2 separate regions of the Homo sapiens genome follow, and region 2 is linked to region 1. The links come from fine-mapping of genetic effects on gene expression. Tissue or cell type: whole blood. Region 1 holds a variant in brackets; the other region holds the start of a gene. All regions are shown on one strand. Distances are between the middles of the regions.

Region 1 (5,383 bases):
AAGCCCTGCAGCACCTTCAGATAAAGCCCCTTCAGAAGGAGAGAGTTCAGGAAATTCCAATGCAGGTAGCAGTGCACTGAAAAGAAAACTAAGGGGTGATTTTGATAGTGATGAAGAAAGTTTAGGTTACAACCTAGACAGTGATGAGGAAGAGGAAACATTAAAGTCACTGGAAGAAATAATGGCTTTGAACTTCAATCAGACTCCTGCAGCTACAGGAAAGCCTCCTGCTCTTTCCAAGGGGCTTAGATCTCAGTCATCAGACTATACAGTAAGTAGTTCTGTGACGTTTATCTTTACTTGAAGAGGGAAAGATGATTAATTAGTGAAAGGGGTGGATTATCGGAACTTACTTTAAAATTTAGTATTTATTATAACTCATATTTGTACTGAAAATGGAATAATTCTTGTTTGGTAAATGAGTTTCCATATCTTTAGTTTTATTACTGTAAGTCAGTGGTCTCCAAACTCTTTTGATCACACACACTTAACAATTTTTGAGCATGTACCCCAACATATATGTATACCTTTAGATTATATATATGTACCACTGTAATACTGTGTACTTTCTAAAGCATATGCAAAAACAGAATTTAAAAGGAAGAAGAAGAGAAAAATAAGTATTTTCCTGTAGAAGTGACGTAGAAGTTACTATAGACTAAGTTCTACTGGAGTCTCTATAGAAGTTCCATATAAATAGAAGTTCTATTATTTTCTTCCTGCACCCCAATGGATCACCTTGCACACCCCCTGCTTTGGAGACCACATCTGTAAATGAAGGTAGAGTGTAGAAATGTTGTTGATTGTGGTGTGCAATTTTATTTATAAAGTGCTTCATTCTATCTTGGGAATAAGCTGAATTAAATTCTAAGATGTCTGTAAAATTTGGTGGGGAAGGTGTTAATATTCCATGGTAACACCTAAAAATTAGTAGTTTGATTCTACTAAAATAGAATTTAAAAGTAAAGACAGGGTAGCCACAGAGTCCTTGAGTGTTTGCAGTCACATCTCAAAGTTAGCAGGGTTTTATAAGTACTGCCTTTCCTAATAGGTAGTAAAATCAAATTGTCTGCAGTGCAAAATACTAGATTTAAAGCATGATGGTGAAAATTATCCTTTAAGAAAGGTGTTATCCTGGCCCAGATTATTGAAATAGAAAATAGTCTTTCGTACCCTTAATTACTTAAAACATCCCAGTTCTTCTACTAAGACATGTGGTAAAGTATTTCTAAATGTTCTTGTTTTAGGGACATGTTCATCCTGGAACTTACACAAATACCTTAGAACGTCTAGTGAAGGAAATGGAAGACACACAAAGGTTTGTTAGCATAAAGATTAATTTGCTAAATTTAACATTTTGCTTGTTTGTGTGGCTTACTTTTAATTTACCTTTTTTAAAAAATCATGAGAAATTAGCGTGCATTTTGGACTCTGTTGTCAACTGTGTTAGAATAAGATATGTTGGCCGGACGCAGTGGCTCATGCCTGTAATCACAACACTTTGGGAGACCCAGGCAAGATTACTTGAGCCCAGGAGTTCAAGGCTGCGGTGAGTCGTGATGGCGCCACTTCACTGCAGCCTGGGTGGCAGAGTGAGACCCAGTCTCAAATGAAAAAAAGAGGCCAGGTGTGATGGCTCATGCCTGTAATCCAGTACTTTAGGAGGCCAAAGCAGGCAAATCTCTTGAGCCCAGGAGTTTGAGACTAGCCTGGGCAACATGGTGAAACCCCATCTCTACAAAAAATACAAAAATTAGCCAGTCATGGTGCCACATACCTATGGTCCCAGCTACTCAACAGGCTGAGGTTGGGAGGATCACCTGAGCCCAAGGAGGTCAAGGCTGTAGTGAGCTGTGATTGAGCCACTGCACTCCAATCTGGGTGACAGAATAAGACCCCGTCTCAAAAAAAAAAAAAGTGGGGGGCCAGGCGCAGTGGCTCACGCCTGTAATCCCAGCACTTTGGGAGGCCGAGGCAGGTGGATCATGAGGTCAGGAGATCGAGACCATGCTGGCTAACATGGTGAAACCCCATCTCTACTAAAAAATAAAAAAAAAAATTAGCTGGGTGTCGTGGCGGGCGCTTGTAGTCCCAGCTCCTGGGGAGGCTGAGGCAGGAGAATGGCGTGAACCCGGAAGTCGGAGGTGGCAGTGAGCCGAGATTGCGCCACTGCACTCTAGCCTGGGCAACAGAGCAAGACTCCATCTCAAAAAAAAAAAAAAGGGAATAAGATGGGTTCTCTTGTTCATAGACTGGATCAAAAGATCCAGGTTTTTATAGTATACTGCACTAACTAATAATATAAATTCCTTTCTGTTTATTACAACTAGTATCTGATAGCTGAAATTCTAGATCGAAAGCATGGGTAGAATTTTTTGT[GT/G]TTTTTTAATGGAAAATACATATAAAATTTACCATTTTAACCATTTTTACATGTACAGTTCAGTGGCATTAAGTAAATTTATATGTTGTGCAACCATTATCACCATCTAGCTACAGAACTTTTTCATCTTTCCAAACTGAAACTCCATACCCTTTAAACAATAACTCCCCATTTTCCTCTTCCTCCCACCCTCAGCAACTACCCTTCTACTTTGTCTCTATGAAATTGACTGTGTTTTAGTTATCTCATGTAAGTGGTATTATATTTGTCCTTTTACGACTGTTTATTTCATTCAGGGCAGTGTCTTCAGAGTTCATTCATATAGTAGCATGTGTCAGAATTTCCGTTCTTTATAAAGCTGATTATTCCATTGTATTATGTATATAACACATTTTCTTTAGTCATCTGTCAGTGGACCTTTGGATTGCTTCCACTTTTTGGCTACTGTGAATAATGCTGCTATGAACATGGGTATACAAATATCTCTTCAAGTCTCTCCTTTAGATTCTGTTGGGCATATACACGTAAGTGGACTTACTGGATTATATGGTAATTCCGTTTAATTTTTTGAGGAACCGCCACACTGTTTTCCACAATGGCTGCACCATTGCACATTTGCACCAACAATTAATAAGGGTTCCAGTTTCTCCACATCTTTGCCAACACATTATTTTATCTTTGTTTTTTGTTTGTTTTGATAATAGCCATCCTAACAGTAAAGTGGTATCTCCTTATTGTTTGGTTTGCCTTCCCTAATGACTAATGATGTTAACATATTTTCATGTGCTTATTGGCCATTTGTTATACAAATGGAGAAATGTCTTTTCAGATTCTTTGCCTGTTTTTAATTGGCTTGTTTGGTGGGTGGGGCGGTTCACACAGGTAGAATTTTCTGAAATATTTCTATCAAGTTACTCTTTTGAGGAAAAAGTTTAGAATTATGATGAACACCCCCCCCCCCCCCCACACACACACACACACACACACGAGAGAGAGACAGAGAGAGAGAGAGAGAGAGAGAGAAAAGTTGAGGATCATAATGATCTTAATGAAATTTATGTGACTAATTATGGACAGGTTTTGCTAATAAGAGGGGAAAAATATATTCCTTGTTAATTCAAGGAGTGTCCTTGAACCTAGCCTGGAGAACTTCACTAACAGCTCAGCTGACTTGATTACATGGAAGTTGGTATGTGCTACATATCTCAAACTTGATAACCAAGTAGCTAACTTTAGGAATTTTTCAGATGATTAGTAGTTCAAAAGCTTCCCCCTTTCTGAATTTAATTAGAGAACTTGTCTGTATTTAAAATTCTTTAAATATTTCATGAATTCTTGTGATCTGTGATATGAAATCTGAAGTTCCTCCTTTAAAATTGAGCACTTCACAAATGAAAGACAGTAGTACTAGTTTAATTGAATGATTGACCCTTTTCTATAATGATAGAACAGTACATTTACTAGTTATTTACTCCTCAGCTGTACTTATCCACTGTTTGTGGCTGGGGTAAGGACCTTGTTTAAAATAACTTAATCTTGGAGAGGCAGTATAAGCAAGGACTCTAGAGCTAGACTCTCTCGCTATGAATCCCACATCCTTGCATTACAAGCTCTTGCAAGTTACTTTGCTTTTCTAATGTTGGTTTTCTTATCTATAAAATGCGTTATAAACTACTACATGGAGTTGTTGTAAGGGTTAAAAGAGTTAATATATAAAGCCCTTAGTGCAGTGCCTGTCACATATTAAGTGCTCGGTAAATGTTAGGTGTTGTGATGATGATGACAGTGACAACTACTGCTGCTAGAAAGCCTAGTTAACTTATCAGGTTGTTGGGCATCTAGAACCCAGTGAACTTTAAAGAGTAGAGAGGATAATCAAATTAGTGATGTTTATTCTTTGCCATTTTTCCTTTCCCATTCTGTGAGTGGTTTGGACAGATCATTCTTGAAGTTCTAGCTTTATGGAAATCCTCAAGTCTTTTATGCAGTGGAACACTATTCTAATGCCACACTGGTAACTGGGTAAAAGCCTAGCACCTGAAATATATCTGTTTTCATGAAAATTGTACGTCGTGATGTATTTGGGAGACATAATTTGACCGATAGTATAACAAAATTTGTTATATACCAGGGTACTTAATAAGGGTTTTCTTTGTGCTGCTTTTAGATATAAACTAAAGACTTTTTAAAAATATTTTTAGAGTAAACTGTTATAACATTCTTTCCAATTCTCAGGCTAGATGAACTGCAGAAGCAACTACAAGAAGACATAAGGCAAGGCCGAGGCATTAAATCCCCAATCAGAATTGGAGAAGAAGACAGTACAGATGATGAGGATGGCCTCTTAGAAGAGCACAAGTATAGCATTTTTCATAATGTATTTTACCTTATTAAAGTTTTTACATTTTTTAGTTTTGTTTTTGTAAAATAAATGGGCCATTGATGGCTGTTAGTGAATAATTTATGATAGGTTTCTGTCTGTAATGGGTTTGAAAGGCAAATGTTAGGGCCAGGTTTCATCTTTTATCTTTTCTCCTGGTTATTGTTTCTTTTCACATAGACACATTTAGTGGCTTTTGACTAACAACTACAAAAAGTGGAAGAAGCAAAGCATACTTTTCTCATGCTAGTCTTCTAATTTGGGATTAACATTGGCTTAAAAAATGGTTTTCTTTGCACCCAGCTTTTAAATACAAAACTATATGTAGTGTAACAATTTGGTATTGATTGACTTTTTTTATGTTTCAGGGAATTTCTAAAGAAATTTTCAGTTACAATTGATGCTATTCCTGATCATCATCCAGGTGAAGAAATATTTAATTTCCTCAATTCTGGAAAAATTTTCAATCAGTATACCTTGGATTTAAGAGACTCTGGTTTTATTGGACAAAGTGCTGTAGAAAAACTTATTCTTAAGTAAGTAGAAAAATAGACATTTTACTTTTATATGTATAAAAAATTACTCTAAAACACTTCTGACTCACGTAATCTTCTAAAAGGTTA
Region 2 (5,383 bases), 42 kb after region 1:
GGAGTCAAGAGAGGGCAAACCAGAAGGCCCAGCTTTGGGTCTGACTCCAAGACGACTGGCTGGGAGGAAAACTAAACAGGCTTCTGAGGCACAGTGGAATAGTGAGACTTCCGCATTGTTGCACTGGTGACAGCCCCTACAGAAGAAGCACCTCAGCTGTATATATAGCCAAAATAAAGACCACACCACCTAAAGGGAAAGTGCTGGGCAAACCAGAGATGGAGATGGCAAAGCAGGAACAGAAATGCTGCCACATTGAACAGTAAGCAGGACAACTTGACTAGGCCAGAGTTCTCTTGCTTCAGGGAACCTGCTCAAGTTTCAGGAATTCATACCCACCCCCTTCACCTAGGATCCCTGCTACAGTAAGTAACTGTTCTGTGCAAAGTGGAGCTAAACTCTGGTGTGTAAGTGGCTGACAATCACTGCTGAAGACGGCCAGCACTACCCTCAGCCACTTTCTTACAGCAAAGTTGGGGAAAATAGACTAGCAAAAACAAAACTCATACTTTTCTGTGTGTGTGAAGTTCTCCAGAAGGTTTCCAAATGGAATCCTCTCACAGCCACCCTGCGAAGCAGCCAGGGTAGTGACCTTATGGATGAGTGACAGCCTGTTCAAAGAATGACCTGCCTGTGTCCCAGGATGCAGATTTATGGCTGGGTTAGGGTTAATTTCTTTAGTTGATTTCCAGTTTTCTTTTCCACTGTCTGTCAGTATTCCCCCGTTCTTATTTTACCAGCTGGATTTGCAGAGAGACATACTGTCAATCAAAAGGGCTTCCTATGGGCAGCTCCATTAATTGCTTTTACATCTGATACTCTCATTAGGTTTAGAGATTTTACTGGGAGGCTAGCAGAAGGAAATGGATTGTGGTCTGCTATCAAAAGTACTGAAGTAACTGCCCAGTGATCATTGAAATCACACATTTTGCTCATTTAACAATGTCTGAGTTTGCCATCAGCACCTCAGAGGAGCAAAGCTTGGTTCATAAAGTGAAGTTGAGTGATACTGAGCCTACCACACTGGCCTACTCGCCACCTCCAGAGCTATCTGAAGTCAGCACTGCAGGTTCTGTGAACATTTGGGAAGCTGTGCCTCTTAGCCCCCTGGGCCCCTACAGTTTAATTGCTCTCCTATCTGCTACTGAAGGACCAGCAGTCTTCCTACCCTGCCTCCACTGTTACCACCAACCCACTTTTTGATAAGGACTGCAGATTTATCTTTCTTAGCCCTGCCTTGACTGGTCTTCCCACCTCAGACGTCCTTACTCAGTCCATCATCTCTTTCAGGATTTTCTTCTGTGGTCTTTTTCAAACTACTAGCTGACTTTTCCCTTTTATTTCCCACTAGGAACCCCTCCCCGCCCCCCCCCCCCCCCCAGCCATTTCATCAAATCAAACTCACTGCCCTCTTTCATGCCCCTTCCTTAGTTCCCCAACACAAGCCTGTGCATAAGCTTGAACATTTCTACCTTTGCCAATGGTATTTCCCCTTCTGGCTTACCCTGCTTCCTCCTTCTCAGACTTTTCCAGTCTTGATTGTCCTCTCCATAAACACAAGAATGAACTTCAAGGCAAGTTACTTAATGTCTTAGAGCCTGTTTCCCCATCCATAAAATGGGGCTATAAATTCCTCAGGATGGGATGAGGGTACAAATAAAAAATGAAGCAGGATATTCTTTGTAAAAGTGTGTGTACATTTTTTATTGTGTTTCTCCCCAGCTACCTTCCCTCTCCCCGCCACACACATCCTATTTGCAGAGTGTTGGGGGAGGTGGAACTGTGATGTGGGCCCTGCTGTCTAGCAGTCTGCAGTCACACACAGCCATCCAAACTACGAGATTGTATATGATTCAGTGCCAAACTGTGAGCTTTGGGGAATCCAGAAAGAAGGATGAAGCCTTTCCCAAGTTTCCTTTAGTTAAATGTGCCACTTGAATCCTGTTCTGACTCCTAGGCACATGCAAGAGTCAATCACATATGTTCCTGTGGCCTTTATCATTTTGGTCCATCTCTTGAGCCCACATGAATACTGTCATGGATGGAGGAGGAAGGACCAGGCTGGGTCAGGGCCTGAATGCAGGTTTTGTTTGGACTATAGGGGCTAAGTTCACTTTAATAGGCTGTGACCTATTAAAGGAGGCAGGAACCAAGTTTGCACAGAAGGACCATCCTAGTTGAGTTAAAGGAGTTGGGGAGTTGATTGTGAGGGGTTTCCTAGATTGCTGCTGGGTAAGGTGATTGAATCTGGGAAGGATAGGGTACTTGATTGCCTAGAAGGGTGCACTCTAAGTTCTGGATAAGAATGGTGCCCAAGATGAGCTGGAGGGGAAGGCAAGTGTTTGAATGACCCAGTCCCTGAGGTGAGCCTAGGTTAGGGTTAAGATTTGGTGAGTGAACAGGTGCAAACGCTTGTGGCTTATTTATCCAGAAAAAGCATTTTCTGTGTGCCTTTCAGGTCAGGCTGTTACTTTATCCCCTTCAGGCCTGACCCCATCTCCCCCACGCATAGCTCAAGCTGAACAGCCCCTGAAGCTGGGAATCAAGCCCCTACCTTGTGTTCAGAGCTTCCCTAACGTCCAGTCGCCACCTAGGGTAGCCTTCCCTCCACACCCTAGGCCGAGAGCAGAAGCGGGTGGCAGGAGCACAGGGAGTGAGGTCCAGGTTAGAGGACAGGCCAGAAGGCCCTCCGAGAGGGTCCCCCAACCCCGCAACGCCAGGACAGGTTTGCACGTCCCCAGCAGTAGGCAAGTCAGGGGGGTCCTAGGGTTACAGCGGAGGAGAGGACGGGCTATAAGCATGTGGAGGGTGCACGGGGTGGCGAGGCCACCACCAGGGGGCGATTTCAGGGCCGCAGCGCCTAGAGGTGGGGGGTCGCCCGATGGCCGAAGGCTGTGTGTGAGCCTCGCCCTCAAACCGCCTCTATTGTGCTAGAGTAGGGGGCGCAAAGAAGAGAGTGGCGACCTTCCCCTCACCCCACCCAGTCGGCCCCGCCTTTCAGGACCCCGCCCCACCCCCGGCTCCGCCTCCACCACCCCCCCCCCGCCCCGCCTCCAGCCGCGGCCCCTTCCTCTCGCAGCTGGTGCTGTGGGGCCGCGGAGCCGCGCGTCGCTGTCTCTATGGCCCCGGATCCGAGCGCAAAGGTGAGCAAGGCGAGGAGTGCGGGCGGCGCCCTGGCGTGAGCCTGGGGCTGCGGGCCGGGGGTCGGGCAAGGCCTCCCCCACGTCCATTCTACCCTCCAAGCTGGGCCAGGCCTTTCTCACCACCAAGTCCCCCGGTCCTGCATGACGGCTCTAGAGGGGCGCGGGCCAGGCCTCGGGCTGCGCGGGGTGCAAACCGGCCACCACGGAGTCGGGGACCAGCGCGGGGAGGGGGCCGCGTGGCGAACAGTGTTCCCCAGGATCTGGGTCACGTCTCCCGGCGTCCGGCGGGATCGAAGGAGAGCTTGTCCTCGAGCTGCAGCAGTAGAGACTGAGGTTAGACCTGACGAAGGGAGAGGACCGCGGACTGTCCAGGATGTTGGAGGGAGGGGGTCCCGGGGGAGGGGCTCTCTCAAGCCAGGAGAGACCGCCATCCTACTAGGCAGAGGGAAATACCGCCTACACTAGGCAGGTGGACATCTGGGATGAAGGTCGAGAGCCTGCTGATCCTCCATTGATCCTGTTTGAAGGGTCTCTCCTCCCCAGTTCCCTCCACCCCAAGATCTAATAGAGGAAAGGTGATCAGAGTTCAGGGGGCTGGCCCTGGGGAAGAACCCGAACTGTGGAACTTGGGGTGGAGTGTGGGGCGTGGACTGGAGACCTTAAACCCGTACTTCGCCACTGAAGGGAGGGGTGATATGCTCCGCCCCGCCCACTTAGCCCCGCCCCCTCCCACAGGTTAAGTGGGGGCTGAGAGCTCCAGCCCGTCTCCCACCTTTAGAACCGCAATATACATAGGGGTGGAGGAGTACTAAATTATGCGTTCCATTCCATCTTTGCTGAAGCTAGGGGCCTCCTCCTGCCTGAGTTACTTTCCCATTCCCTCCCTTGTAGAGCGGCCTTGACTCATGCACCCATCCCATCTGCCCATCCAAGGTCAGAAGCCTCCCCCATCACCACACACACACACACACACAACCCCCTCACCACCCCCACACACAAACACACACTTGAAATTGGGCCTTAGAATTGGGACTTTCAGGAACAGAGGCAGGGTTCTGCTCTGCATCTCACCCCAGTGGACACTGGCAGCCTCCAAGCCTATGGCAAAAACTGGACCCCTGTATGCATGTGTGCTTGTCTCTGCATGGATGTAGTTGTGTGTTCAAGAACTGCGTGTGAGCACACATGTACTTGACCCTTCTGTGAACATGATTGCCTGGCCCACTATATCAATGGGTTTGTGTGCATGTCCCTACACATACATGTGTATGTATAGGACCCTCCTGTTGAATAGGTGCACAGTCCTTGACACAAACCCACATGTGTGGGTTTATCTCTCCTCAATGTCTGAGGCTGTGTGACCTGCTGAATGGATGGGCATGTAAATTCAACGTCACATGTGAATATGTATGATTACCTGTGGCTGTGGCCCTCTGTATGAGCATATGTGTGCACAAAACTCCCTGTGAGTATATGTGTGAATGACCCCTGTGAATCCACGTGTTCACAGTCCTCCTTGTGAACATGTGTGTGTGTGTGTGTGTGCACCCATGTGCATGTATATCACCTTCCTAATAGTCACCCATGTGACTCTTAAACTATAAGTGTGACATGCACCACACTGAGTGGCTCCTCTAACCTGGGGCATGTTCCTCCTAGCCATAGTGCTCCCCACACACATGCCTTTTGCACTGAGCAAATAGGAGGTCCCAAAGGTAAACAGGTGTGCCTCCACAGGGAGGGGTGGGGCATGGCCGGCTTGCCTGAAGCTTCCTGCTGTCCCAGATCCCAAACAGGGAGCCTATGCCCTTTCAGGGTCAGGGAATCCTCTTCTCTCCCTTTCATATTTGACTCTACCCCTCAGGGCTCTGCCCCTGCAGTGCTGACCTTTACCTCTTGAATAATTGCTCCTGTTATCCCTCTGGCCAGTTCCTGATTCCTCCCCTCTTTCCAAGGCCAGATAGTTAATATTTGACCTGGGAGAGGAGGCACCAGTGGCACCCTCTGGCCCTGCCTGTGGGTGGCTGATGAGATGGAATGTATTAGGTCTCTCCACACCTCACCCAGCCCAGGAACTCTTCAAGGAACCCCTTGGTGATTAGGAGGCCTGTTACAGGGGTTGGGAGAGGCCTGCCACCCACCCCCATCCCATCCCCAACTGGTTGGCTTGAGGGAGGGTCCAAGATGTGTCGGGAGGGGCCAAGGGCTCAGGGATCCCATCATTTACCTTCTTCACGTTG

Evidence for each region. PIP is the estimated chance that this variant, and not a neighbour inherited with it, causes the effect. A credible set is the group of variants that fine-mapping cannot tell apart.
Region 2: SEMA4G starts here. The variant in region 1 is the best candidate, but not a certain one, in a credible set for the expression of SEMA4G in whole blood (TOPMed, PIP 0.53).

The regions. Positions count from the first base shown.
Region 1 is chr10:100,924,702-100,930,084 of GRCh38, forward strand. SLF2 (SMC5/6 complex localization factor 2) reads left to right here. Exons shown (of 20, transcript NM_018121.4): 5 at 1-271; 6 at 1,248-1,318; 7 at 4,616-4,738; 8 at 5,129-5,296. Among named protein-coding and RNA genes, the nearest start is that of SLF2, 14 kb to the left of the region's middle. The variant GT/G (reference allele first, on the strand shown) is at 2,380.
Region 2 is chr10:100,966,449-100,971,831 of GRCh38, forward strand. It overlaps SEMA4G (semaphorin 4G), which reads left to right and starts at 3,056. Exons shown (of 15, transcript NM_017893.4): 1 at 3,056-3,143. RefSeq lists a silencer at 3,013-3,072.